4 linked regions of the Homo sapiens genome follow. The protein of the gene in region 1 interacts with the protein of each later gene in a pairwise test. Each region holds a gene or a part of one and is shown in the gene's direction. Other genes may lie near its edges.

The links.
Region 2: the proteins of PPM1A (region 1) and ARRB1 interact in binary tests that used the Homo sapiens proteins (3 or more experiments, as listed by UniProt).
Region 3: the proteins of PPM1A (region 1) and CERKL interact in binary tests that used the Homo sapiens proteins (3 or more experiments, as listed by UniProt).
Region 4: the proteins of PPM1A (region 1) and PRSS22 interact in binary tests that used the Homo sapiens proteins (3 or more experiments, as listed by UniProt).

The regions. Positions count from the first base shown.
Region 1 is NC_000014.9:60,245,228-60,252,220, forward strand, and holds the start of PPM1A (protein phosphatase 1A), read left to right. Parts: upstream 1-3,993; 5' UTR 3,994-4,450; intron 4,451-4,934; exon of another isoform or gene 4,935-5,254; intron 5,255-6,993. UniProt on the Homo sapiens protein: Enzyme with a broad specificity. Negatively regulates TGF-beta signaling through dephosphorylating SMAD2 and SMAD3, resulting in their dissociation from SMAD4, nuclear export of the SMADs and termination of the TGF-beta-mediated signaling.
Region 2 is NC_000011.10:75,348,654-75,355,738, reverse strand, and holds the start of ARRB1 (beta-arrestin-1), read left to right. Parts: upstream 1-4,077; 5' UTR 4,078-4,131; coding exon 4,132-4,151; intron 4,152-7,085. UniProt on the Homo sapiens protein: Functions in regulating agonist-mediated G-protein coupled receptor (GPCR) signaling by mediating both receptor desensitization and resensitization processes.
Region 3 is NC_000002.12:181,654,093-181,661,844, reverse strand, and holds the start of CERKL (ceramide kinase-like protein), read left to right. Parts: upstream 1-4,739; 5' UTR 4,740-4,838; coding exon 4,839-5,076; intron 5,077-7,752. UniProt on the Homo sapiens protein: Has no detectable ceramide-kinase activity. Overexpression of CERKL protects cells from apoptosis in oxidative stress conditions.
Region 4 is NC_000016.10:2,855,166-2,862,622, reverse strand, and holds the start of PRSS22 (brain-specific serine protease 4 precursor), read left to right. Parts: upstream 1-4,452; 5' UTR 4,453-4,518; coding exon 4,519-4,600; intron 4,601-5,774; coding exon 5,775-5,801; exon of another isoform or gene 5,802-5,888; intron 5,889-6,369; coding exon 6,370-6,541; exon of another isoform or gene 6,542-6,703; coding exon of another isoform or gene 6,704-6,771; coding exon 6,772-7,049; intron 7,050-7,457. UniProt on the Homo sapiens protein: Preferentially cleaves the synthetic substrate H-D-Leu-Thr-Arg-pNA compared to tosyl-Gly-Pro-Arg-pNA.

The DNA.
Region 1 (6,993 bases):
CCTTCTTAGAGAGGTCTGCACTGAACACCTGTTTCAAGTCGTCTCCCGGATCTGTTTCCTTATTTATTTTCTTCACAGCATGGATAACAGTATGCAATTTCCTTTCTATCTGCTGACTTATTTGTCTATGCCTCTTATTATTATGTTGGCTCTTTGTGGGCAGGGCTTGCCCATTGATGTCATTATCTACCTCCAGTGTCCCACACAGTGCTTGGTGCACAATAGCTATCTCATGAACAGATGAACTTATCTGACAAGATCCACTCTAGTATTGTAAGGCTGTGGCCATATATGGCTATCTTGAGGTGAAAGCCTACCCTAAAGACTGTCCAGGACTTGGCCTCTGGTGCTCACAGTTGCCCAGGTTTCTCTCAGGTCGCAGGATGAGCCACAGTGGTAGCATAAGACTGCTGGCTGCTCCCCTCTGCCCCTCCCTAATGGGGCTGCCCAGTGATGTCACACAGGACAGGATTCTCTAATCCTTTTGATTCTGTAACAGTCCTCTAAGCAGCTAAGTTTCTCATAATGTATTATGATGTAGGGGAGGGAGGAAGGAGGGCCAGGGTAGGGGGCACACCCTCTCCCTGAATGAAATTCATTTAGGGGCACTGTCTGCTCGCATGTTCTGTTCTGGGAGAAAATGGGTAGCAGAAGCTACAATTTGTACTAAGCTAATGAAAAGAGAGAAAAGAAGAATGGGGAAGAGAAGGGCAAAGAAGGCAAAAAGAGAAGAGAAGAAAAAGGGAGGAGAGAGAAGGAGAAATGAGAAAAGAGGAAACCAAATGAAGAGGATGTGTGAGAGAAAAAAATATGAAACAGGTAGTGAGGGAGGAAGGAATTGTTGAACCTATGTTCTGGTTGGCTTTCTAACTCTTGAGTAGTGACTGGCTTCAGTGGAAAAGGATGGTGAGGGGTATTCTCAAATACTAGCCTCCTGAGGGGGTCATTTACATTACTGCATATATTTTGAGAGGCCCAGGCAAGTCTGCCTCAAGGGTGACTCTCCTGGAGAGTAATTTGGGAGCAGGAATGTAAACCTTTTTTTAAGTCACAATTGTGGTGGAAAGGGAAAGAGAGTATTGCTGATCAGATTAAGCTTTAGACTCCACACTACAGCCCCTGTCCTCACCCCAAGCCTCCCAATTACTAGGCTATCAACACACACTAAATTCAGGACTTTAAAGCCAATCTTGTAGATAATCTTTTTCTTTGTTAATTGAAATATAAACAGATTTCCAAAGCAGAGCAGGATAGTTTTATAATATACCTATAAAAATTACTAAAATGTCATCATCATGGCAATATATTCCCACTAAAATCTTACTGTGAACATCCCAAATATGTGTAGAGGCCCGGCAAAGTCTTACAGTTCAGAAGAGAACTTTCAATCCTCTTTTTTCAATGTTATTTTCCCCTTCTATCTGTCCCCCCTTCTTAGCATAAGGTTTAATAAAAGGGGATATGATGATATTAAACATATTTAATCAGACAATATTGATATCTTTTTAAAATATTAATCTTATAACCCATGAGTTTCCTAGTTCATACCAAAATGTCCCTGCAAGCTGTATTCAGAAATAAATAGTAGGAAGGTGCTGCTTTATCGGCAGTCTGTACAATGCGTAGACTCCTTAAAAATTTCTTTCTGTTCATATTTTCTATTTCTCTCCCTCTTCTTCTACAATTGACCCAGATTCTCCAAGTGCAGAACAGAGAGAAGAAAGGTGTGGAAGCCTAAAGGAAGGAAGCAGAAAGATAGGCAGGCATTTCAAGTTTTCTATGGTCCACTACCGTCACTAGTGACCCAGCTTCTGCTTATAAATAAGAAAATTTGTCTTTTAAGAGCACTCTAAATGGTTGCCATATGAGCTTTTGTAGTTCAGAATGTTAATGAGTCCACCAGCATGCTACTCATGCTGTTACTTGCCTGGAGTATTAAGGATTCCAAGAAGGTAGCGTTTCAAAGATCTCTGATCTAATTTCTTTTTTTGGGGGGTCGGGGAGATATGTGGAGAATTAGGAAATGTATCCTCAGATGATACTGAGACCAAATGCATAGTGAATTTTATTTTTATTTTGTATATGTGGAAATGATCCACGATCATCTTCTAAGGAATTCTGGCCGGGAACAGTGGCTCACGACTGTAATCCCAGCACTTTGGGAGGCCGAGGAGGGTGGATCACGAGGTCAGGAAACCGAGACCATCCTGGCCAACACGGTGAAACCCTGTCTGAACTAAAAATACAAAAAAATTAGCCAGGCGTGGTGGCAGGCGCCTGTAGTCCCAGCTACTCGGGAGGCTGAGGCAGGAGAATGGCATGAACCCGGGAGGCGGAGCTTGCAGTGAGCCGAGATTGTGCCACTGTACTAGCCTGGATGAAAGAGCGAGACTCTGTCTCAAAAAAAAAAAAAAAAAAAAAAAAAAAAGTGAAGGAAACAGAACCTTCCCCAAAGTCATGTTGAGAAAATTAGAGATGGCTTTTTACAACTTTAAAAGCAGCAGCTAAATATTTGCTGAATGCCAGAAAGAATAAATAGGTTGCTTTTGATCTAAGAGTTGGGGCAACAAAATGGTTTAGGAGATAGAAAGTAGTAGGGTGCAAATTGCTATAGTGAGCTCCTCAAGTAAAATAGAGAGGCCTTCAACATAAATTTACCTTTTTTACTGGCCAGAACTCAATTTGGCCAGTAAAAGAACCTGCCTTCTACAATGAAGTCTTTGGTTTGTGTGTGCATCAGAACATCTTTTAAAAATACGGACTTTTCTTCTAACTTCTTTTCCTGCGAATGTGGTGTAGGTCAAATTCGTGAACTGGTTAAGCCGCTGACAAGAGAGGGAAGGGCACCCCAGCCAATGGGAACCCGTGCTGGTGATGTACTGCTCCTAGGCTGCGATTCATTGGCTGCCTAGGGTTTGTCATTCTATCCCCGGCGTCTGCAAGCAGCGTGGGTCGGGTTTTCCAGCTAGCTAAACTGGATTTTGGCCGCTGGCACGTGCAGTTTCTATTAACTTTAGCTCATCTCTACCTCTTAATAGAAGCAGCTGTTATGTTTCTGATTATTCTCCTGATTTTGAAAAATCCTGTTCCCTTAACCTACCTCATTGGAGGTCGTTGGAGGTCCCCTGGGACAGAACCACGTGATTATCTAACATGTGCAAATAAATACAATGTGGAATCCCCTGAACTATAGAGGGAAAACCTGCCAGAAACTCAGAGCATGTGCCCCGTGCGTGAATCAGTTGCACTCGCACATTGGTGGGCGGTGGTAGCGTGCTTGTGTCTCTGCCCTTTGGGTCGCGAGGTGTGTGGCCGTGGCACCTGCTTGGGCTTCCTGGGGTCACTGGGAGAGGAAGGCTCTGGAGGAGTGGGACTCTGGGGTAGGGGGGTCTGGCAGCTGCCTGGGACCCACCATGGGTTCGAAGGGCAGCGGCCAGACCGCGACGGCGCCCAAGAAGGGTGGACAGCTTCGGGTCTGTGCTCGGGGCTGCGTGTACACCATCTTCGCAGGGAGTGGGGTTTGTATCTGCAGGCAGGTAGAAGAGCCAGGGCTCCGGGCGCGGACGCCGTAGGGGTAGCTTCCGAGTCCCTACTTGGCCAAGGGCCGGCACGGAGGGGCTGTCGATCTACTGGGCACCTAATAGCCGCACATTCTGTCCAGTCCCTGGCGCCGGAACGTGAAGGCCCGGGTCCTGGCTGCTATCCGGGATCCGGACGCTCCCTTCGGCTTCGGCCTGGTGCTCCAGGCCGTAAGGCAAAGGCGGCGGCAGCAGCAGCGGCAGAGAAAGAAGCTGGGTAAGGCAGTGACGTCATCTGTGGCGGCCCCTCCCCCGCCCGCCAGCCCTCACCGCAGTTCCTGCCCAACGACATCCGGGTCTCTGTAGCTGCGCGCCGCGCCGCAGCTGTAGCGGCGGCGGAGCCAGCGGGGCGGGGCGAGCGGAGGGGTGGGGGAGGGGCGACGCGGTCGTGAGCGCGCCTGCGCGGGGCCGCGCTAGAGGCGGCGGCGGCGGCGGTGGCGGCGCTAGGGACGGGAGCGCGCGCGGGAGCTAGAGAGCAGTGGTCTCGGCGCTCGTCCGGCCCGCAGCTTCGGGTCCTCAGGCGGCTGTTGCTCCGGAACGGGTGGTTGGGGAGGGGGGGGTGGGGGGACTCTAGACAGCTGAGGCGCGAAAGCGATGAGTCCTCGGCTCTTCCTCCTCCTTCTCCGGGACCCGCTCTCTGCCTCCCTCTCCAACGCCCGGATGATCTGAGCCGCGAGGGCGCCGACAGCCGGGGGCCCGGACGCAGCCCGGCTCCTCCCCTCCTCCGCCCCTTCCCCAGCCTGACCTGGCCCGCCGCTGCAGCGGTGACCCCTCCCCCGGCTGCCGCCGTCGCCGCCGCGGTGACCCCCTCCCCGGCTGCCGCCGCCGCCGCCTCGGCCGACCAGGGACCTGCCCGCCTGCGGCTGCTCCGGGTAAGTGCGGCGCTCGGGCCGACGGCGGGCTGGCGGGCGGTGCGGGCCTGCGCGGCGGCGGCGGCGGGCAGGCCTGGGGCCTGTAAACAAGCCGGGCGTCTGCCCGGGCGCTCCCGGGAGGAGACGCGACAACTCCACCCCCTGGCCGGCCTCCTCCCCCGAGCCGGGCGGCGGACGGCGAGGGGTTAACGCTCGGCGAGGGCGGTGGCGGGGAGGCGGGGGCGGGGTGTTAGTTGCGGTGGCGCGGGGAGGGGGCGCGACCCTCTGGCCGTCCGCGGCCGAGATGGGTGTTTGTGGCGGCGAAGCAGGCGACGGCCGCAGGCCGGCCTGGCCGGAGAGCGGCCTGCAGAACTTTTCCCGAGCGGGGAGGGGGCGTCCCCGCGCCCCCACCCGCTCGGGCGCGCCGCCCCGGCTGTCCTGGGCTTCAGCCCCTGGGAGGGAGGCGGGGAGACTTCCTTTGAACCGGGCTTAGCCTCGAAAAACCTAATTCTGTAGAAATTGCTTAAGGTTTTACAGGGGGCAGGGCTGAGAGACTCCTTCAGAACTCAAGTCAGTGAGTGATGCCTCTAGTTCATTCATTATTAAGGCATCGAACAAATCCATTGAAGTAAATTCCGATTTCTTATCCTTTTAACTACGTAAATCGGGTAAAACTTCTTGATGTTAGAGCTTGGTTGAGGTATGGTTCTGTTCTGCTTGTAGATTTTAAATAAACTTGGAGCCTTTTCTTGAAAGACAGCTGGCTGTGGAGAGCCTTCTACCAACTGCAGTTTTAGATACGTTTTGAAAATTTCATCACCTGAGGTATTTTTCTTCTCTCCTGAAACACCACATGGTACAAATCCACAAAAGTCATGCTTCAGTTGTCCAAGCCATGGGATCTGTGTGCTAGCCCCACCTCCCCGCAAGTTTCCTGCTCATTGGAATAATGAGCTGAATGTGTTTTAAGAAGTGGTTGGAAGAGTATGAGAGATAGGTATCATTTTCTCAAAGGAAATGATTTTGACATTATTGAGAGAAATTAGACATTTTAACAATTGTTTTGTAAAACAGTCTTTTCAAACTTGCACGTTGGGGTTTTAAACACAACCACTTTACATGTGTTGCGCTCCGAAAAGTGGAGGGATTTGTTGAAACACTACTCTGCTGAGACTTAGGGTTCCAGAGCACTTGGGAATTTAGCATAGCTTGGTCCCCAACTCTCTTTGAAACACTTTACTTTTATACTTTTATCTTGCTACATATTGGGCCTTTTCCAAAGATTGTATTTCTGTAACTCCTTATTTTACAAATGAGAAAATTGAAAATAAGGAGATTCTCTATTCTTAGATGCTGCTTTTACTGACTTAATGCTTTCTTTACCAATAAATAATTTGAAGCACAAAGTAACATTTCCTAGTGTTATAGTTTTGTTCTTGTTATGTGTAACTTATATGTATCTGATTAAACTTTCAGTCATGTAAGGATGATTACTTTTAACCTGGAAGTTTACAGCAGTACCACATTATTGAAACTATAATGAACTTCCTGCACATGGCAGTTGCCTAAGACATTTTAATTTGATATCATAAAACATTTTTAGATCGGTGAAGTAATTATATTATGGGAAAGGTGTATTAAGACTGATAATGTTTGAAGTTAACTACCTCAATTATATTTGAGAAATAATAGTCATCAAATTGCTTTTTATTTGGCTTGTATCTTTTTATGTATTTTGTGTACATATTGTATCTTTTTACATGAGGGGCTGAGGTATATGACCTGTTGAAGGGAACAGTGCAGTAGGAGACAAGGATTGTTTAGTCATGGCTGTGCTCCAAAATATCTGTGTCCATGGACAAGTCCTTTAACCTTTTGAGTTTCAGCTTCCAAATCAGTAAAGCCAGTTGGGCAGATTATATTATCACATGTACTGTCCAGTTACTACATTTAAAAATTTTTTTTTATCAATATTGTGTGTCTAGTCAACATACCGTTGCCAAATAAATGCCTGTTATGTGTCAGGCACTTAGATGTTTCAGTGTTCTAAGGCTGGATTTCTTTCTCGGTTCTGTTTTATTTAACAAATTCTAAGTTGGTGATGGTTCTTTAGAAAAGCTGTTCTTGTGTTCTTGTAAGCTATTGATTTTTCTTTTGGGATTGGGATGTGTAGGGAAACTCTTGAGAGGAAGGAGGATGGAGATTTCATGGGAGACAAAGGGTGGTTGAGACTACAGGTTTGAACAAGCACAGGACCCTTGGTAGTCTGATGTGAAGGACATTATAAAAACACATTATGAAGGTTTTTTCTGTCACTTCAAGCTGGGTCTTGTTAAACCTTTGAAAATTCTCTAATACCTCATTTGTTTTTGAAAGAAATCTATAGCAACATCATTTTGTCATGTGGTAAATATTGCTGAGCAGTCACTAAATACCTATAGTCTTTTAGTTTGTTCAGATTACATCTAGGCCATTTGTTTACTCTAATAGCTAATAGAATGTACAGCTGATTTTGGTTTAACTGTGCGTGCATATTTGTAATTTTTAACCAAGAAGTGGCATAT
Region 2 (7,085 bases), on another chromosome or scaffold:
AAACTCTTGGTCTAAAGGTATCCTCCTTCCTTGGTCTCCCGAGTAGTTAAGACTACAGGCACACACCACCAAACCCAGCTAGTTTTTTGTTTTTTTATTTTTTGTAGAGATCTCACTATGTTGCCCAGGCTGGTCTCAAACTCCTGGGCTCTAGCAATCCTCCTGCCTCAGCCTCCCAAAGTGCTGGGATTACAGGCATGAGCCACCACACCCAGAACCACCCTTTCTCATTTTTTAATAAGAAATGATTGTGAGTGGTAAATTTCAGGCATGTGACTCGCCCTAGTTGGAACACAGTTGGAGATGACCATCTCCTATGAGCCTCAGCTGCAGAAGCCATTTGCCTTTGAGCAAAAATCACTCTGTTGCTCAGGTGGAGGATGTGACACAAATGGGTTGACGGGAAGAATGGAGGCCACCAGTCCTCTCGACCGTGACTTCCCTTGGAGAATTACATGGAGAGTTGGCACAGACAGACCCTGACCCAAACCTCTGAGTCATCCTGGATCCTCCATTATTCACAGCCAGTCCCTCAGTAGGTGCTGGCAGCTCCCCTTTCAAATATATCCTGAACCCGGCCAGGCGTGGTGGCTCACGCCCGTAATCCCAGCACTCTGGGAGGCCGAGGCGGGTGGATCACTTGAGGTGAAATCCCGTGTCTCTACTAAAAATACAAAATTAGCTGGGCAGGATGGCATGCGCCTGTAGTCACAGCTACCTTAGGAAGCTGAGGCACTAGAATCGCCTGAACCTGGAAGGCAGAGTTTGCAGTGAGCTGAGATCGTGCCACCGCACTCCAGCCTGGGCAACAGAGTAAGACTCTGTCTCAAAAAAAAAAAAAAATCTGCTTCCCAAATATATCCTGAACCCCATTACTTCCTTCATTTCTGTGGCCACCTGTCTTGCCCAAAACCCCACCCTGACGACTGCAATAATGGGGTGCCTTGCCTCTGCTGTTGTCCAGTACCAAGTCATCTCTATCCAACAGTTAGAGTGACCTTTAAAAATGTAAAGCAGATACTGGTGCTCAGCTGCTTAAACCTCCCACTGGCTCCCCAAACTCCTCATCCTCAACTACAAGTTCTGTGTGACCCCAACCCTGCTGCCTCACCTGTACCACCCCTTGCCTGTTCACCAACACCAGGAGCACTGTCCTTGCTCCTGCGCCTCTACAGTTGCTGCTCCTTCTGCCTGGGCAGCATCTTCCCTGACTGTCCCCTCACATCGCTGATTCTTTTCCGCAGGTTTCAGCCCAAAGCCCACCTCCTCGGAGGGCCTAGGGCCTTTTTCTAAGTCTACTTGTCCCTATCACCCTGTTTCATTATTGCTTTATTTTCTTCATAAAACTTATTACTGGCTGAGATTATATTGTGGATATACAAAGAGTTCTCCTCAACATTATCACTTTTACATTTTATTAATTTTTTTTTTTTTTGAGATGGAGTCTGGCTCTGTCACCCAGGCTGGAGTGCAGTGGCGTGATCTCGGCTCACTGCAATCTCCACTTCCCAGGTTCAAGTGATTCTCCTGCCTCAGTCTCCCAAGTTGCCAGGACTACAGGCGCCCGCCACCATGCCTGGCTAATTTTTTTTTTTTTTTTTTTTTTGTATTTTTAGGAGAGACAGGGTTTCACCATGTTAGCCAGGCTGGTCTTGAACGCCTGACCTCAAGTGATCTACCCGCCTTGGCCTCCCAAAGTGTTAGGATTACAGGCATGAGCCACTATGCCCGGCCATTTTATTAATACATAAATATGTTTTTCAAAAATTAGCTGGGCGTGGTGGTGGGCGCCTGTAGTCCCAGCTACTCGGGAGGCTGAGGCAGGAGAACGGCCCGAACCCAGGAGGCAGAGCTTGCAGTGAGCCGAGATTGCGCCACTGCACTCCAGCCTGGGTGACAGAGCAAGACTCCGTCTCAAAAAAAAAAAAAAAAAAAAAAATATATATATATATATATATATATATATGTTTTTCATAGAGCCTGGCAGGTAAAGCAAAATTGTCCTCTTGACTCTTCTTCTGCCATCGTTGCTCCCTCACTGGAATTTAAAGTAAATTAAATCGACCGGGAGCAGTGGCTCACGCCTGTAATCCCAGCACTTTGGGAGGCCAAGGTGGGTGGATCACCTAAGGTCAGGAGTTCGAGACCAGCCTGGCCAACATGGTGAATCCCTATCTCTACAAAAATACAAAAATTAGCTGGGCATGATGGCAGTGGCTGTAATTCCAGCTACTGGGGAGGCTGAGGTGGCAGAATTTCTTGAACCCAGGAGGCAGAGGTTGCAGTGAGCCAAGATCATTCCATTGTACTCCAGCCTGGGTGGCAGAGCAAGACTTCGTCTCAAAAATAAATAAAATAAATAAATATATTTAGATGTTTTGGGCATCAGCATGGAGAGATCCATTGGAGATCTTATGGTTTGGTCAAACCTGTTTTACAGGTGGGGAAACTGATGTGGAGAGTGGCAGGACCTGGCTTCACCATCCTGGTTAGGGATCTCCTGTCATCAAAGAAGATTCTAGTCTGCTCCTTTCCAGATCTCTGAGCCCTGCAGAAACAACAGGTGGCTTCCTCTTCTTCCTCTGTAGAGGGTGAAACCCAGAGGCCAAGACTGGGAGGAGGGTTCTGGGCTTTCATCCATACTCTCTAGCTCCTAACATTGCCCAGAGGTGGGCCACCCTGCCTACCCATCAGCCTCCCCCTGCCCCTCTGCCAAATCTGGACATAATTATAGTAATTATACTGCATATAAACAGTATAGGTAACTGCTTCTGAGCATAATTACAGGAGATGTTTACATACTCACAACAGCATCAGAGTAAATGATAGCTTACTTTCCCCTTAATACTTAGATATCAGGGACCTATCCGGGATAATTAGCCAAATCTCAGTAGTGAGGGTGTGGTAAAGACCTTACCGTTTCCCACTACCTGCAAAGCAGGAAGGCACCTCAGACAAAGCAGGGTCCCAGCCAAGATTTCACAGGACATCAAGAAGCCTGCAGAGAAGTGGGCTAACATCTACTGGGCACCTACTGTATGCAGGCGCTCAGGGGAGGCCAGCAAACACAAGCGAGTTCTTTCAACCTATTAACAATTCTGCAGGCTGATATTAGTGTATCCTCACTTTACAGGTCCGGACATGGGTTCTCAGAAGCTTAGTGCACAGGGTCACCCACAGCGAGCCATGGAGCTGGGCATGGGCGCTTTCCACGGTGCTACCCGGTCACAGCAGCGGGCCAGCTCTGCCCTCTTCCTTTATCGCCTCTTCTCACTTCTCACAGCTTCCTCTTCCTGGGCGGCCTCCTGCAGCCCCTGCTGGCCGCGGGTCTCCGCTCAGTTCCCCAGTGTCAAGGCCGTCTACTGCCCCCTCCGCCCCTTCTTCCTGTCCCTGTTGTGTGGCTGGGTGTTATCTCTCCAGTAGAAGGGGGTGGGGTGGGTGGAATGGGGAAGGGTGGAGCACAGGGCGAAGGCCTTGCCAGGCATCCCGGGGTCTCCAGCTAAGCGAGGGGCCGCAGGGAGCGCGGCCTCGGGGTCGCCAGACCCTCGGCTTCCAACCACCCGCACACACAAAGGCTGCCCCGGCATGCGCGGGAGAGCGCGCTCGCACCCACGGCCGTGCGCACACACGCACAACTGCACAAAGACGTGCACACTCCTCCATCCACACCAATACACTCCCTAATAGGGCCCGCACACAGCCGTGCGCCCTCACATACACCACACCACCACCACCACCACCACACACACACACACACACTCTCACACGGACTCGCACGCGGGTGGACCCCCTCCCCCACCACAAACGCCGACCTTGGGGCCCTGACGCGTCCCGCCGCGCTGCCCTGCCTCGCTGGGCGGCGCGCGCACACGCAGACGCGCACACACACACACATACACACACGCACACACCCCGCGCGGTTCCACGCCCCTGGCCGCGGCCCGGGCGCTGCGCTGCTCGACGCGGCGGGCGGCGGGCGGGGACCGGGGGCGGGGGCGGCGGCGGCGGCCGGGAGAGCGGAGGAGGCGGAGCAGGGAGCCGGGAGCGGGCTGGCCCGCGCTCCTCCTGCTGGCTGGGGATTTTCCAGCCTGGGCGCTGACGCCGCGGACCTCCCTGCGACCGTCGCGGACCATGGGCGACAAAGGGACCCGGTGAGTGCAGGGCGGCCGCCCGGCGGGGGGCGCGTGGGGGCGACCTCGGCGAGGACACGGGCGGGGGCTCCGATTGCGTCCTGGTTCTGCGTTCGCGGCCACCGCGGGATCTAGTACCAGCTCTCCTCCACCCGAGGTCTCCTGTGTGGTCTCCCCGGCAGGGCCGTGGGCGGGGGGACCCAAAGGGCGAGGGCCGGGCCGCCCCATGTGGGCCGCAGCTCCTGGCCCGGACACACAGCTCGCTGACACCCAGCATTGGCCGGCAGCCGCAGAGACGCACGGGGGCAGGTTGACACACAATACACGCACGGGCACACTAACCCGTGGCACAGGCATGCTGGCGCACACACTGGCAACCGCTAGCACACGCTCATCACACGCAGTGGCACGCCGTCATACACGCCTCGGTCAACACATTCTTGCTGACAGCCTTGTTGGCATGCACAGCTCACAATCCAACACACACCAATTCTAGCACACCCTCGTGCTGGCACACACGTGTGGGCATACACTGATACGCACACTGTCACCTGCACTCGCTGTAGCAAACACTCTTGCTGGCACACACATCACCCTCACTGGCACACACACTTGTGCTGGCATGTCTCACCAACACAGCGGAGCGCAAGGCCACACCAACACTGACCCCCACAGACACAATCAGACTGATGCCCTCAAAGACTGGCACCCCACAGGCACGAGCTGCTAGCCCAAGGCCCGCTGACACACACGCTTCAGGCCCCACATGGCCAGAAGTGGAAACACACACATCACACAGGGTAGAGCGCCCCCCGCCACCCCCAGCCTGGGGAAAACAGATCGCATTTCATCCAAATAGATCCCATCCATCTACTCTGTTCCCTTTCCCTCTGACCTCCTGAGGAGTGGCTGGCCAGGGGCTGTTTTGAACCTAGGGCTGGGAGAACCCCTCCCGTTCTCCTAGAACCTGTCCTGAAATACTCAGAAACAGTCTCTGCCTCTGAAAGGGGAAACTGGGACAAAAGGAGGAGGGGGCTGGAGCAGGACAGCCCCTGGGGGCAGCCCTTCAGACAGGACCAGCGCTGGTCAGGGGCTCAGCGTTGCCACCCTATTTTCCCCGTTGCCCTCCCCACCCCCTAAGTGGGCACAGCAGCCTCTCCCTGGGCTCCCCCTCTTTCTCATTGTTTTCTGTCTTTCTCTTCTATTCTTGTGTCCGACTTCTGCCTCCTTCCTTTCCTCCCCTCCCCTCTCCTCGTTTCCATTTATTATTAAGCTCTTGCTGTATACTAGGCGTAGTGTGGGGGATCAAAGATGCGCAAGGCCCACTCCTCCCCTGAAGGAGCTAACAGACTAGAGAGACACCACCCCGGTGGGCACCACCTTTCAGGGCCACTGACAAAGCTATTTCTCACCCACTGCCATCTAAGACTCTCTCTCCACAGTGTGAGAAAGGGCTTGCAGAGATTATTTCCATTTTCTAGAGGAGGAAACAGGCTCAGAGGCAACTCAGGCTCTTAATGTTTAGAAACTACTTTCCAGCCATCCTCCTGACAGCTCTTCCAGGAGGTTAATTTTCCTCTTCCTGTTTTCTAGCAGAGGAACCAGAGGGCTAGAGGCCATGTGATTTGCCTAAGGTCAAAAGGGGCCAGAGGCAGGGCGGAGGCTGGAGTCCACTTGGTCATGTCTCTGTGGATGGCCCTAGGGCACTGCCAGGCCCCTCATGGGCCAGGGAGGGGAGCCCTGCTCTGTGCTGGAGGCCCAGGCTTTGGGGGGGACGGCAGAAGATCATGCTGTGTCTGCATGAACCTTGATGGCTAGTCCCCATTGCAGCTGGCTGGCCAGCACTGTGACCTAGGCCTCTGTCCTCAGTAGGAAGGTATGTGACTCCTTCCCCAGCCACATCCATCTGCCCTGAAATTAAGACCCTCTTGACCCATGAGGTCAGGCTTTTCTTCCTGCAGGGCATAGCAGGGAGTCGGAGCCATTCTCCACTCCATTGTCCTTCCTAGGCTGCCTTGTGATCGGAGTGACTCAGCCTCTCTTGGGTCTCTCTGTACCTCTCTGTGACTTGGGGGATAAGTGTCATTGTTGTCCTGCTGACATGATTGTCAGGAAGATGTGGACACCATGGGCTTCCAGGCACCTGTTGGAGACCCTGTCTCTGAGGCCAAGGTATTTTCCATGGCTCCCCCTGCCCTGCCTCAAACTCACTGGTGGACCTTTGGGACATTGGGCAATTGCCTTTACTTTTCCGGACGTTAGTTTCCCATCTGTAAACTGGAGCTATCAATACTTACATTTTAGGGCTTCCCTTGTACTTACTGACTTCACTGGGCAGGGGAAGAGGCACTGCCTGAAGCCTGGAGCCAAGGCCCGGCTAAATCCACCTGATGGTGGCCCAGACCTCCCCTTCAGACTCTCCTGCAGCCCCATGAGGCCTTTCTGTCCCTTTCCGGACAGTTGGCTAAGTAATTTGGAAAAGAAGGGCAAAATCAGTAATGGGCTGTACCTTGTCTTTTTCCGTAAGGCATGAGTACCTATGACTTAGAAGAGGAATCTGCAGATATCAAAAACTGAACATCAGGAATCATCGCAACCATCCCTCCATCTGGAATTGCACCCCCATGTGAAAGTGACAATGAAAATTTATCACAAACTGTCATTGCCCTCTAGGAACTCCCAGGGTCAAGGGGGAAAGAGGTGTTAAATACCTGGACAGGGCTGTGCGCGGTGGTTCACGCCTGTAATCCTAGAACTTTGGAAGGCTGAGATGGGCAGATTGCTTGAGCTCAGGAGTTCGAGACCAGTCTGGGCAACATACCATCTCTACAAAAAACACAAAAATTAGCTGAGTGTGGTGGCACATGCCTATAGTCCTAACTACTCTGGAGGCTGAAGTGGGAGGATCACTTGAGCCCTGGAGGTTAAGGCTGCAGTGAGCCATGATCATGCCAC
Region 3 (7,752 bases), on another chromosome or scaffold:
ATACTAATAATAGGAGAAAACTGATAGAAAAGAGGGTTTGAGCAGGTGGGCAGGAATTGGACAACATGGTGTCTCATATGTCATAATAGAAGTTTGGATTTTATTCTACCTGCAGTGAGAAGTTCTTAATAAAAAAAAAATTCTATAAACTGGAGTTTGAGAAAGAACTATGTTGATGATAGCATAAGCCCTCAATCACTTGTCACATAAACTCCAAACTTCAGCAGAGACTCAGGGAGATCAAAGGGACTACCACAGGATTACCCACTGGCTAAAATTCAGATCCATGGCAGTTGGTCCTGACTGGAATTAGACTTCCTTGTCTGTTGCCCTCATTGCAGTGGGTCTGAATGTCTCTGTCGGCTGTGAATTTTTCTCCCTCTATCTGTGGCACTGAGAAGGTGGCCCAGACTTCCAGAGTCTGTCTCATTGGCCTATTACTTGGGGATTTGCTGCCCTTCTTCTGGAAGTTTGGGTATTTGTTTTCAGAGCATACTTAAAGGCCTCCTGAAAGCAATGTTAACAATAGCAGGATATATTTTACAGTCTTCTACTCAGACTTGGATTTTTAAGAACCAGGGATGGAGACTGTGTTTCCAGATCTAGTCAAATCCCTTCCAAACATAAAGCAACAAAGTGCCTTTTAAACTAGGACCTGTACTGTTTAATGCTCTGGAAACAAATACCCAAGCTTCAGCCAAAGGAGGGAAAGCTATGTTCAGGAAGCTTCCTGAAAGTTTTTTGAAAGCAATTTTCATGCATTAGTATTTTACATATATATATATATATATATACACACACACACACACACACATATATATAAACATATATATATATACACATGAATCACTAATGAGACAATTGATCTTCAGGAACTAACGTGAAATAATTGGGGTATCTTGGTATTATTGTTATAGATAAATGTTGAAGAAGTTCATTCTTTCAGATATTAATTGAGCACTTACTGTGTACTAAGAACTGTGATAGATACTGGGGATTTAATGGTGAACAAGATAAATTCTCTGCCATCAGGGGGCTTATATTCTAACAAACTTAAAATTTACTGAGTGTTCTCTGTATTTCAGTATTGTTACTAAGTACACTAACTTAGTGGGGAAGCTAGACAATAAACAAAGAAGTATGTAATAAGAATTAATAGTAAGTGCTGTAAAGAATACTAAAGCAGGTTATGGTAGAGAGATTAATGGCAGCGTGAAGATGTCCATGTTTCAATCCCCAGAACCTGTGAATATGTTACCTTACATAGCAAAAGAGGCTTTGAAAACATAATTAAGGGTTATCTGGGCAGGCCCAATGTAATCATAAGAGTCCTTATCTAAGACGGGGGACAAAGGTCAAAGACAGAGGAAAAGAGACGATTTAAGGATAGAAGCAAAGAGGAGAGATGTTAGACTGCTGGCTTTGAAGTTGGAAAAAGTGAACATGAGCCAAAACAAACAAAACAGAACAAAACAAAATCCACAGGTGACCTTTAGAAAAGGGGTCCCCAGTCTCTGGGCCATGGACCAGTACCTGTCTGTGGCCTGTTTGGAACCAGGCTGCCCAGCAGGCGGTGAGTGGTGACTGGTGGACAAGCAAGTTTTACCACCTGAGCCCTGTCTCCTGTCAGGTCAGTGGCAGCATCAGATTCTCATAGCAGCCTGAATCCTACTGTGAACTGCACATGCAAGGGATCTAGTTTGTGCTCCTTATGAGAATCTAATGCCTCCAAAATGCTCACCCCTTCAAACTGCCCCCATCCGTGGAAAAACTGTCTTCCACAAAACCAGTCCCTGGTGCCAAAAAGGTTGGGGACTGCTGCTCTAGAAGCCAGAAAAGAGGAGATATATTTTCCTCTAGAGCCTACAGAAGGAATATATAGGCCTGCTGGCACCTTGATTTTAGTCCTGTGAAACTGATTTTGGATTTCTGACCTCCAGAAATGTAAAACAATGCATTGGTTTTGTTTCAAGTCACTAAATTTGTGGTAATTAGATACAGCAGCAGTAAGAAATGAATACACAGGTTTACAGGATGGTGAATTATGGAGGGTGCTCAGGAATGGCCTCTTTGAGGTGGTGGCCTTTAAACAGAAAAATGAGCAAAGTGAAAGAATGAACCATCTGGTGGGGAGAAAAGCATTCCAGTCAGAGGGAACAGCAAAAGCGAATGCTCTGAGAAGGGATTATTCTTCTCAATGTGTTTGAGGACTGGCAAGAAGGCTTTGTGTGAATGAGCAAGGGGAAAAAGTTAGTAGGTGATCTCGGAGACATAGCCAGGGTCCAGATTATAAAGGACCTCTCGCCTTGCTAAGCATTTTGACTTTATTCCAAGAATAATGGGAAGTCAATGGAAGGCTGTGAGCAGGGTTATATGCTCTCGTTATTTTTTAAAGGCACAATGTAACTCCAAAATGGAAAATTGGCTCTGGGCTGGAGGTGCCAGCACAGGGGAAACCGAAAGCAGAGAGCTGGGTTGGGAGAGCGGAGACTGAAGTTGTCCAGCTGAGGGGTGCAGAAGTGCAGACTGCAATGACAGCAGGCAGAAAGGACTATATGTTCTAGACAGAATGGACAGGATTTGCTGGTAGATTGGATTGAAGGCATGAGACAAAGGAGACATGGATGATATCAAGGATTTTGATACTACAGATTTGAAACATTCTGAGAGGGACAGGTTTGTGATGGAAAATCATGAGTCTGGTTTTAGATATGTTTTAGAAGCTTATTGGACAGCCAAGTAGAGATGTCAGGTAGGGAGCTGGACATAATACCTAAAGTTCAGGAGAGTGGTTGGAGCTGGTGACATCATTTGCAGAACCCTGGATGGTACATAAAGCACGGGACAGTGTGTGGATAGATCCTAAAGAGAGCCCTAGGGCACTCCAGCCCTGGAAGAAGGCAGCTTATCAAAGGAAAAAGAAAGAAAGAAGGAAACACAATCCTTATTACTTCCATCTTCAGGACAATTCAAAGCCAGTGTTTTTGACTTCCTGGCTTGAGTGAAGCTTGAAAAATGGCAACTTGCCCCTTTGCAAAGCTCCTAAGGAGTAGCCATTGGCTTGGCCTGTTTGCACTGGCTCTGGGTGAGCTTTTAAAATGCCAGTGAGCTCTAATTGTGTTGATTGCCTAACAGCTGTGAATACAAGATGCTGACTCCAGAACTGCAACTCATTCTGCGAAGGGCACCGTCCTTTTCCCTCTAATGACTGCTGAACAGAGCCACCTGAAGCCTGCATGGGGTTTAGCAGCAGCTGCACTTCTGCTCTAAGAAATAGCTCACTGCAGTCAGATCAAACTGAAGCTCTTCCTTGCTTTTCCTCGAAGCTTGGGTACTTATTGTCGGAGCATTAAACAGTAAGAGTCCTAGCTTAACTGGTGCACAGTGCTTTATGTTTGGTAGGGATTTGGTTAGGCCTACAAACCGTCTGAGCTAAGAACCTTGAGAAACTCCTGCTATAGTTAGCTCTTTCTGTGACTCTGCAGTGTGACCAGGAATGAGGACAGAATTAAGAATTTGCTGCCTCTATGATAGAACTGTTTAGGCACTAGAACACTGGAACTAGATCTACAACCCTATGAATTTAATTTCCTTTTCAACTCCCCTACTCCTTCTTTTCAATATGATGATAATGATCTTGTTTAAAAAAAAAAAAAGCCTTCTGCTTTACTTCCCACTCTGCTCCTCTTCCCAGGGACTCACTTTCTTCCTGACTGCTTCCCCATTACAAGTACTCAGCTCCCTGTTTTATCACCCTGCTTAGAGCAGCCATTATCAGCCTTGGCTGAACATTGGAATTACCTGGGAACTTTTAAAAATCCGGAAGTCTGGGTCTCGCCTCCAGAGATTCCAGCTTAGTTGTCTTGAGCGTGGCCTGGACATTTGGGTTTTCAAAAGTTCCCTATGTAACTTTAATGTGCAACCACAATTGAGAATCACTAGCCTCCAGACTCTCTGTGTTATCAAAATTAATGAGCAGCTGATTTTAGAAATCTCAGTTATCAGGAGAAAAGGGTGAACCCCCCCAGGGCTCTTCTCCTTTTCCAGGTGACACTTCTTTATGGCAGTGCGTGAAAGTGAAGCCCTGCTGCTTGTAATCTCCCTCAAGGGAGTGCAAGATCCAGGCAAAGACAAGACTGCAGAGGCGCTACCTTGGGGGAAAGTAGGACCCTAAATACTTACACCTGGAGGCACTTACCTTTAATACTGAATTTGTCAGATGCAAATTTGTCTATGCAAACCAGGGCCTTATCTCTAGCTTCCCCTCAGGGGTTTTGGGAAGTGCGCTACTACTCTGAAACAGGGTTGTAAAGCGTCACCTGTGCTCTCCAGGGAACCCTCTGGAAAGGAGGTGGAAAAACAGAGGCTTCCACCCTTGCAACTCTAAGTGTGTTCCTTGGCCAGTGGGATCCATCACCTAGTATTTTCTTAGATATGTGGTATCTGGGGGCCAGTCCCACACCTATGCAATAAGAATCTCCATTTGAACAAGATGCCCAAGCGATTATATGCAAGTTTAAGATTGAGGAGGGCTGGTTTAACTCGAGGGTAACGAAAAGTACGAAATCGTACTTTACAGGAGAAGCTAGGCGGAGGGAGCCACTTATTCTTCCTCTTGCAGCTGGGTCTTTTTGTGGTGAGTGGCGAAGCGGCGAGGCTGGCAGGCCAGGGTGCTGGACTGGGTCAGGCGCGGCCCCGCCTCCCTCCTGGGTCCCTGCCCTGCGCGCCGTTGCTGTGGCAGCGCTGGACGCGGCTAGAGCTGGGGCTGCCGCGCCCTCCACCTCCTTCTCCAAAGGCCTCCCCGGACCCCTGGCTCGGGCCCAGCCTGCGACTCCGCCATGCCCTGGAGGAGGCGCAGGAACCGGGTGAGTGCCCTGGAGGGCGGCCGGGAGGAAGAGGCGCCCCCGGAGGCTGCCGCTGTGCCTCCGGCGCTGTTAACGTCCCCGCAGCAGACGGAGGCGGCGGCCGAGCGGATTCTGCTCCGGGGCATCTTCGAGATCGGGAGGGACAGTTGTGACGTGGTGCTGAGCGAGCGAGCACTGCGGTGGCGGCCCATTCAGCCCGAGCGCCCGGCGGGTGAGTGCCCGGCCCCAAGCGTCTTCGCCTCCCTCCGCGCTTCCTCCCTCTCCCCGGCCCAAGGCCTACACCCACGAGCTTTTGCTCCACCCTCCCCTTTTCTCGCCTCCCCTCCCCGTGCTCGCCTCACTGCCCGGACAGGTTACCGAGTCCCCAAGTCGCCGCCTCCTCCTTCCCAACTGGGAACTCACGCCTCTCGCCCCATCCCAGAACCCCCAGGGATTCTTTCGCTACCTAGCCTTTTCCCGCCTCCGAGACCTTCCCCGGGCAAACGTCACAAGCAGCTTTTGCTCAGAGTCTCAGCAGAAAATCTTGAGCCCCAAAGGGGAGGTAATTTACAAATGTGAGAAGGTCAACTACTCCTCCCCTCCAAGTTGAAAAAGTTTTAATCCATTAACTTTGATGGTACATTGAAACTATAAACATCTCACAGATTATGCCTACACAAGAGTTCTGAATCCAACTCTCATTTTGCTGACTTGAAAATGTAACTCCAGAGCTTTGGGAGTGTTTCTGGGTTTTTTTCTGCCCCTCACCTTCCTTGCCATTGTCTAGAATTAAGACTTCTTCAGGCTCGGTCTAGAAACTTTTGATTTTTAATATTGACCCTAGATTATTGGATCACAGTTTTGCGATGCTTAGTTACGTCAAGCGGTTTGCTTAACGTTTGCCTTTTATTGACTTAAAATTTTAGTTACCTAAAAAAGTTATAATGCTGTAGTTTACAACAAATACTTCGAGTCTATTTTCACGTCTTAGTCAAATAGCCTTATAGACTTAACAGATATTTTATAAAGACCATTTTGCAAGTCTTATAAGTAGACTTTCATATAGTCTTATTTCTAAGTCCAAACTCGAGAAATACTCCCCATTGTTGAATTAGCTTAGATGTGAGCGGTGAAAGACAGATGAAATGGGGGAGGAACTACATCAAGGTTACTCTACTTGCGAGGAGATGACTTGGGGGAGATGGAATTTGGTATTCAACCTCTTTTAGCTAAATACAAATTTATGAAATTAAAAAAATTGCCTTCCCCTGTTGGAAAACAAGACACAGTGTGGTATTTATGTTACAGAATAGACTCACTGTCTTAAAGTCTTGCTCAAAAGTCTAACAAAATGAAACCAACTAGCCAGGGATTCAGCACTGGTTGCGATTGTGAATTCTGCCTGTGCTGCATGTGCCATGCTCGCTCGCTTCACGAAAACAGTCTTTGACCTTAAAGTGTTTTCAGGTGTTTTAAAAACCAAGGTGTAGTATTTTCTTGAACCTTTTAAGTTAAAAGCTAGGGATATAGCTATGGAATTATTTGTAAGTCTTTCAGGCAATTCGAGTTATGCAATATAGAAGTTTATAATTACAGTTTGGATTAGCCCAAAGAGCCAGTTTAACCTACAGTGCAGCTGAAATGCTATAGAATTAAAATGAGACATTGTGCAATGAGAGGTCATACAAACCAATGTTGCAGTATTTGTGTACAAAAAAAGCAAACAATGACATGAGAAAAGAAATGCTGTTTTATATTGAGTGGTGATTAAGGTAAAATAGGTTTAATTAGTGCACCCCTGGCAGTAGAGTTTAAAATACATCTTGACAGATTTGTAACTTTAAAGGTTGCAAGTACTGATTCTTTGTTTAATTATGCCCTAAAACCATTTGGTGGTCTTTTCCTTCATACAGGTGTACCCTTTTTCTTTGTAATTAATACCTGGTATTCAAACCACTTTGGGCCTCTAAAATTGGGGGCACAGAAGCCTAGAGCCTTAGTAAGTACTTCTGTTTATGGAAGAAACCAAGAGATGTTTTATTTAGGTAAAATATAGCCAGGCGTGGTGTGTCCCTGTAATCCCAGCTACTTGGGAGGCTGAGGCAGGTGAATTGCTTGAACCTGGGAGTTGGAGGTTGCTGTGAGCGGAGATCACACCACTGCACTCCAGCCTGGGCAACAAGAGTGAATCTCCATCTCAAAAAGCACAACAAACAAACAAAAACAAACACTGGGAAATAAGAAGGAGATATTAAGAGATGATATATTTAAATGTTAGAAATGCTCTGTTGTTGAATAAGCTTAGATGTGAGTGGTAAAAGATTAAATGGAAGAGGGAGCTACATCAAAGTTACTGTACTTGGGAGGACATGATATGGTAGGATGTGGTGGGGGGAGAGCATGTCCATTGCTGGTTGGCAAGTGACTGGCTGCCTCAGAAAAGGATGAGGGTGGGTAGGGGAGATCACTGGAGATTATTAGAACATACGTATGTTTTCAAGATTGCTTAGTTTTTAAACCTCATAGTACTTTGTTTTCACTGATGAAATAAAATACTATGTGATCTTTTTCTAATTTTCCATCTTGAGTAATAAGCAAAGACATTAATGTATTTTATGAAGGCTCTGACTGCCAAAATTGGGACAAATTGATGGTCTTGTTGGCAGGGTAAATGAGCATAACCGTAGTAATTGTAGTTCTTTTTATTGGGTTCAGGGATGACCTGGAATAATGGATGTGTTATTACCCTTCCCTGTAGAAGTGAGGCTTTCGAAAAGAGGCTATAAGTCAATTTGGGAGGCACAAAGTATCAGCGCTTTTTGGGGATTTTTTTTTTTTTTAAGTAGAGAAATATTTTAAATGTGTGATATAAAGTTATGCATGTGCTTCTTAAGCACATTAACTCAAC
Region 4 (7,457 bases), on another chromosome or scaffold:
TCCAAAGTAGCTGGGACTACAGGCGCCCGCCACCACACCCGGCTAATTTTTTGTATTTTTAGTAGAGACAGGGTTTCACCATGTTAGCCAGGATGGTCTCTAGCTCCTCCTGACCTCGTGATCTGCCCGCCTTGGCCTCCCAAAGTGCTGGGATTACAGGCGTGAGCCACTGCGTCCGGCTGCTTTGCTCCCACTTATACATGAGAACATGCTTAAGAGGCTAAGGCAGGTAGATCACCTGAGGTCAGGAGTTCGAGACGAGCCTGACCAATATGGTGAAACCCCGTCTCTACTAAAAATATAAAAAATAGCTGGGCATGGTGGTGTGCACATGTAATTGCAGCTACTCAGGAGGCAGAGGCAGGAGAATCACTTGAACCCGGGAGGCAGAGGTTGCAGTGAGCCCAGATTGCGCCACTGCACTCCAGCCTGGGCAACAGAGCAAGACTCTGCCTCAAAAAAAAAAAAAAAAAAAAAAAAAGGCTGGGCACACTGGCTCATGCCTGTAATCCCAGCCTTTTGGGAGGCCAAGTCTGGCAGATCATGAGGTAAAAAGATTGAGACCATCCTGACAAACATGCTGAAACCCTGCCTCTACTAAAAATACAAAAATTAGCTGGGTGTGGTGGCACGTGCCTGTAGTTCCAGCTATGTGGGAGGCTGAGGCAGGAGAATTGCTTGGGAGGCTGAGGCAGGAGAATTGCTTGAACTCGGGAGGTGGAGGCTGCAGTGAGCCAAGATTGCACCGCTGCACTCCAGCCTGGTGACACAGTGAGACTCCATCTCAGTAAATAAATAAATAAGAACATGCAATCTTTGTCTTTCTGTGTTTGACTTGTTCCGCTTAAGATAATGGCCTCCAGTTCCATCCACATTGCTGCAAAAGACATGGTTTTGTGTTCTTTTTTATGGCTTCGTAGTATCCCACTGTGTATATATTCACCACATTTTCTTTATCCATCATCTGTTGATGGACACTTAGGTTGATTTCATGGCTTTGCTGTTGTGAACAGTGTTGCTGCGATGAACACACGAGTGCAGGTGTCTCTTTGATTAAATGACTTCTTTTCCTTTGGGTGGATGCCCAGTGGTGGGATTGCTGGTTGAATGGTAGTTCTAGTTTTAGTTCTTTGAGAAATCTCTATCCTGTTTTCCATAGAGCTAAATGATGTACTTATTGTTTACAATTCTCTGTTTCATCCGATGTCCATGGCTTTTGGTTTGCTCATTGCTGTATCTTCAGCACTTCGGACAGCGCCGGCATACAGGCGGTGCTCTGCAAATGCTTGTTGATTGAGTTAACAAGGACAAGGAGAGTGTCTTATTTCCCTTGACTACTCCAGCACATGGTGGGTGGGCTCCATAGCCTTTGGTGGGACAATGAATGGATAGCCCTGTTCAAAGTAGCTCCCCAGACTCCTGGGCCCACATCTGAGATGCCACCATTGGCGAGTCACTTCTTTTGCCAGTGGCAGCTGCTGTTAACATGGAAATGCCCCAGTGGCCCTGTCAGTCATCACCACTCCAGTGCACATGGATCAGAGGCCCTGAGGCCAGGCTGGCAGGGAGTGGGGGTGTGGGTGGCAGGGGCACACAGCTCATCCAGAGCTTGCACAGGCAGGGATGCTGGCCAGCATGTGGGTCTAGCATTGGCAGGCGCTCAATAAATATTTTGTTGAGTGAATGTTGAATCATGCCAGGGTCTCCACCCCGTGGCCTTTCAGAGACTCCACCCTCTATACCCTGGGAATTGAGGAACTGCTGTCTGGGGCCCTTCCCCAGGACTTGTGCCAGGAAATCTTCACCCAGCTCCTCAGGGCTTCCCCCTGCTCCTACCAGGTCCTTCTCCTCGGGGCTCTCTTCCTGGCCACCCTGTCTCAGGGATAGCGGCATCTTGGGCAGGGCCCATGGCTACCCTTGGGTATCCAGGGCAGTGAGCTGGCTCTTCAGAAAGGCAGAAAAGCTGGAATGGAGAGGAAACCTGGGCGGGAGGCAGAGAGGGAGGCTGGAGTGGTCGGTCCCCAGCCACTTGCAGACTTGCTTCTTCCACACTCATTTATACATTCAACAAACACTCGCTGAGCCCCAGGGTGCAGCAGGCACTGAATATGATCCTGGGGGTCCACAGGGAGCCCCCCTGCCCACACTGTTTCCCCAGCACCCAGCTTCACAGTGGCCCTCTAGGGTCCAAGCCACCGCCTGGTCCCATGGTTCTGTGCCCACCTCCCGGACACCTCCCTGTCATCCGTCATCTGCCTCCCACCCCTAGGAGGTCATGTGCTTCCTGAGCACAGGACCTGCGTCTTATTCATCACATGTGTCCTGGTGCCCACCAGGGCCTGACATACAGCAGGTACTCAATATATGTTTGCTGGGTGAGCTGGAGAGGCCACCCACCTTATTCCAGAAGGCAGTGGGGTGGGGCGCAGGAGGGCCCTGGACGCCCTGGGTGCAGAGCTGAGCGGGGGACAGTGAGTAGGGTTGGGGGAGCCCAGCAGAAATTTCTGCTGCAGTGCTGCTGCTGCTCAGAGACACTGCCCCTCCTTGGCCACTCTGCGTGGCCTTTTCCTGCAGTTCCCCCAAACCCCCTCTGAGTCCTGGGACAGAGAATAATGCATCCTCTGGGGCTCCCCAGGGCCCTGCTGTTTGACTTGTCTCTCGGTGGAGCAGGGCATGGCCTCTCTGCCACGAGAAAGTGCCAGTCGTCCTGCTGCCACCCTAACCCTTAACAGACTGAGGAGGTGGGCAGCACAGAGTCCACCCCCAGGGCAAAACCCGTCCTGCTCAGAGCCATGGAGTCCCTGAAGCAGCCATGGTGGTCTGCTAAGCCCCTGACCCACGCCACCCTGACTCTGCAGGGAGCAAGTTAGGGCTCACCCCAGGCAGGGTGAGGCACCTCCTCCAGGCTCCCGAAGCCTCCATGAGGGCAGTCCCAGCAGCCACCCCCAGTGTTGGGGTGCAGGTCCGGCTCCACCACTCACCCAGCAATCTCGGGCAAGTCACTTAACCGCCCTAAGCTGCCTCAGTTTCCTTATCTGCAGAGTGGGAATAATAAAGACATTTGAGGATTAGGAGGCAATGCATGGCACTCCTAAATGTTTGCTCTATTATATAAATACTATATTTATATTTGTATAAATATATTTATTACATACATATTCACTACTATGGTTTTTTTTTTTTTTTTTTGAAACAGAGTCTCGCTCTGTCGCCCAGGCTGGAGTGCAGTGGCGTGATCTCAGCTCACTGCAACCTCCGCCTCCCAGGTTCAAGCGATTCTCCTGCCTCAGCCTCCCAAGTAGATGGGACTAAGGGCGCCTGCCACCATGCCTGGCTAATTTTTTTTTTTTTGTATTTTTAGTAGAGACGGGGTTTTACTATGTTGGCCAGACTGGTATTGAACTCCTGACCTCATGATCTGTCCGTCTTGGCCTCCCAAAGTGCTGGGATTACAGGAATAAGCCACCCCACCCAGACACTATGGTTGTTTTTAATTCACCCCCGGCGGTAGCAAGGGCCCTGCTGGAGGCTTGTTGATCGAATGAGTGAAGGGGCGCAGGCTCCTGCCTCTTTGTAGAGGAGGAAGCCTGCCCTGCTTGGGTGGGAGTGTCCCAAGTGTGGGGCGCTGCAGGGCACTGAGTCAGGGAAGGTCTCACAGGATTCAGCCCCGGGTTGCCACTGTGGCAGCCGCTGGGGGGAAGCACCGAGAATCCACTCCCAGCCCAGGACCCGGCCCCCCACAGCCCAGCCCAGCAGCTCTTTGAATCCTGGGAGTCCCAGCCCTTCCCGGGGCCCCTCTTCTCTCAACCCCCCTGCTTGGCCGAGCCCTGGTGCCCATGGGCTCCTCCCCTTCCCAGGAGTCCAGGTGAGGTGAGTTGTCAGGTGTCTGAACCGCAGGGCAGAGCCCCGCCTCCAGGAACGACAGGAGGGCGGCCACCAGGAGGCCACCAAGGTCGCCACTCACCTGATTCACAGCTTTCGGGAAGTGGGTTAACGGGATTCCCAAGCCCGGGTTGCGCCAGGTCTCTGGGCTGAGTCACAGGGGCCTGGGGCCCTGCAGGTGGGAGCCGTTACTGAGCTTTGGGCACCCCCTTGATCCCTAAGGCCCTAGGACCACCCCCAACACCCAGTACCCCAGACTTCAGCCTCTCCAAACCCAGGCCCTCCCCAGCCCGGAACCCCTTCCTTTCAGTGCCCTGGCACCTTTCTCTGCCCCTGGACAATTAATGTCAGGGACCTCTGGGCCCAAGCCCCCTCCCCTGCCCTTCCAGAGGCCACATCCTGGGGTCTCAGCTAGAGCCCCCCCAGAGCCCTGTAGCGGCTGGCTTCCTCCCCGCAGCCCCGCCCTCTGCCCAGGACCCACAGCCGGGGTGGCCGCGGGAGCCACCTGGGGACTGGTCTGACGGCATTCCGCCTCCCAGGATAAAACCTGGGGCGACCTGCAGGGAACCTACACACCCTGACCCGCATCGCCCTGGGTCTCTCGAGCCTGCTGCCTGCTCCCCCGCCCCACCAGCCATGGTGGTTTCTGGAGCGCCCCCAGCCCTGGGTGGGGGCTGTCTCGGCACCTTCACCTCCCTGCTGCTGCTGGCGTCGACAGGTACGTCCGGAGGCTGCTCCTCCCTCCTCCCTCTCACCTCCACCCTCCTTCCCTCCTTCCCTCCCTCCCTCTCTCCCTCCTGGCCTTGCCTCTCTCATCTCCTTTCCGCTTCTGCTCTGTTTATCTCTTGCTCCTTAACTGCTCTGTGCCTCGGTTTCTTCTACGGCTGTGAGGATGAAACAGAAAACGCAGCAAGTACGCAGCGCGCCTCGGTCTCCAGTTACCGTCGGCGTCGCCATCGCCTGCTCCCTCTCGCCTCCGTGTTCTCCCATCTCCTCGTCCTCCGCTGCTTGCCTCTGGGGAAGCACCGTTTTGTGTTGTTCCTGCCGCAGGAGGTCAGGGGAGGGCACACCAGCGGCAGCAGCGTCCAGAGCCGAGGGGCTCAGGTCTGTGCCTCCCTCGAGGAGCCGGTCCTGGTCCCCGGAAGGCAGGCTGGACGGGAAGCTGCGGGAGGGCAGGGTCACAGCTGTGCAGCCAGGGCCTGGCCAGGCCCCAGGAAATGCCCCGCCGGTAGGGGCCCTGGGGTTGAGAGACTTGAGAGTCTCCCTGGGCACTGGAGGGCTAGAGGTTCCTCACCACCAGGTACTCAAGGGGACCCCCTCCTCACTGGGCGCTGGGACGCCTGCTCACTGGGCGCTGGGACCCCTCCTCACTGGGCGCTGGGACCCCCTCCTCACTGAGCGCTGGGACCCCCTCGTCACTGGGCGCTGGGGACCCCTCCTCACTGGGCGCTGGGGAGCCCTCCTCACTGGGCGCTGGGGACCCCTCCTCACTGGGCGCTGGGGAACCCTCCTCACTAGGCGCTGGGGAGCCCTCCTCACTGGGCGCTGGGGACCCCTCCTCACTGGGTGCTGGGACCCCTTCCCACTGGGCACTGGACCCCTTCTCACTGGGTGCTGGGGGCTTCTCGCTGGGCGCTGAGGGACCCTCCTCACTGGGTACTGGGACCCCTCCTCACTGGGCGCTGAGGGACCCTCCTCAGGGGGTGCTGGGACCCCTCCTCACTGGGCGCTGAGGGACCCTCCTCACTGGGTGCTGGGACCTCCACCTCACTGGGCACTGGGATCCCTTCTTACTGGGTGTTGGGGGCCTTCCTCACTGGGCGTTGAGGGCCCCTCACCACTGTGTCCTGGGGCCCCTCACCGGCCTAACCGTTTCCTTCTCTTGCCCTCAGCCATCCTCAATGCGGCCAGGATACCTGGTGAGTGGAGCTGGCAGCTCTGACGGGAGGGAGAAGGGAGGAGGCCCACGCGCAGGCAGTGTCTATGTGTCCGTCCCCTGGGCACAGGTCAGAAAGGGGCTGGGGTGAGAGGGGGAAAGAGCTAGAGGGGAAGGGAGGCAGGAAGGAGACACGGATGCAAGGAGAAAGGCTTGAGAGATGCCAGGGCCAGAGGAGAGAGAGAGCCAGGAAGGTGAACAGAGTGGAAAGCAGGGTAAGGAAAGAGGGGGAGGGAGAGACCAGGTGCAGCTGACAAGGAGTGAGTGGAAAGGCCAGGGCCAGGTGAGGACCAGCAGAGAGTGAGGATGGAGGGAGGGATGGGACGGGGAGGTGGGCGGAGCTTGGGGTATGGGTGGAGCTTAGGATGTGGGTGGAGCTTGGGGTGTGGGTGGAGCTTGGAGTGCAAGTGAAACTTGGGATGTGGGTAGAGCTTGGGGACATGAACGGAGCTTGGGCTGTGGGCAAAGCTTGGGGTGCAGGCCTAGGGATTGGGATTCCGGGGGTGGGTTGTAGGAAGTTGGAGATAACAAAACTTGACCGTACCCTCCAGTTCCCCCAGCCTGTGGGAAGCCCCAGCAGCTGAACCGGGTTGTGGGCGGCGAGGACAGCACTGACAGCGAGTGGCCCTGGATCGTGAGCATCCAGAAGAATGGGACCCACCACTGCGCAGGTTCTCTGCTCACCAGCCGCTGGGTGATCACTGCTGCCCACTGTTTCAAGGAGTATGTACAGCCGGCCTGGGGCACTTGATCTTCTAAGGCCCTGGGCTTTGTGCCCCAGGCCCTGGGCTCCCTTTACAGGCTCTGCTTCCGGGCCTCTGTTCAATCTTGGTGCCCCTCGATTCTACCTAGAAGCCTCTCCTGCCTTCAGGGGCCTTCACACCCATGCTGTTCCCCCAGGTACCTCCTCCCAGACCAGGCCTGGCTGATCCTCCCCTTCCCTTTCCTTCCAGCAACCTGAACAAACCATACCTGTTCTCTGTGCTGCTGGGGGCCTGGCAGCTGGGGAACCCTGGCTCTCGGTCCCAGAAGGTGGGTGTTGCCTGGGTGGAGCCCCACCCTGTGTATTCCTGGAAGGAAGGTGCCTGTGCAGACATTGCCCTGGTGCGTCTCGAGCGCTCCATACAGTTCTCAGAGCGGGTCCTGCCCATCTGCCTACCTGATGCCTCTATCCACCTCCCTCCAAACACCCACTGCTGGATCTCAGGCTGGGGGAGCATCCAAGATGGAGGTGCGGCTTCTTCCTCTCCAAGGTGGTTGGGGGCAGATGGGGACAGAGGATGGCAGACACTCAGGGACACAGACACCATGAGCAACAAAGGGTGGAGGCCAGAGGCACAGCATGACAGAGGTGGAAGGAAAGATGGGCTGCAATCCAGAAGAAACCTTGGTGGGCAATTTCAGGCCATTTCTCTTTTCTTTTCTTTCTTCTTCTTCTTTTTTTTTTTTTTTTTTTTGAGACAGGGTGTTACTCTGTCACCCAGGCTGGAGTGCAGTGGTGTGATCCTAACTCACTGCAGCCTTTGCCTCCCAGGCTCAAGTGATCCTCCCACCTCAGCCTCCCAGGTAGCTGGAACTACAGGTGTGTGCTACCACACCTGGCTAATTTTTGTATTTTTTGTAGAGACAGGGTTTTTCT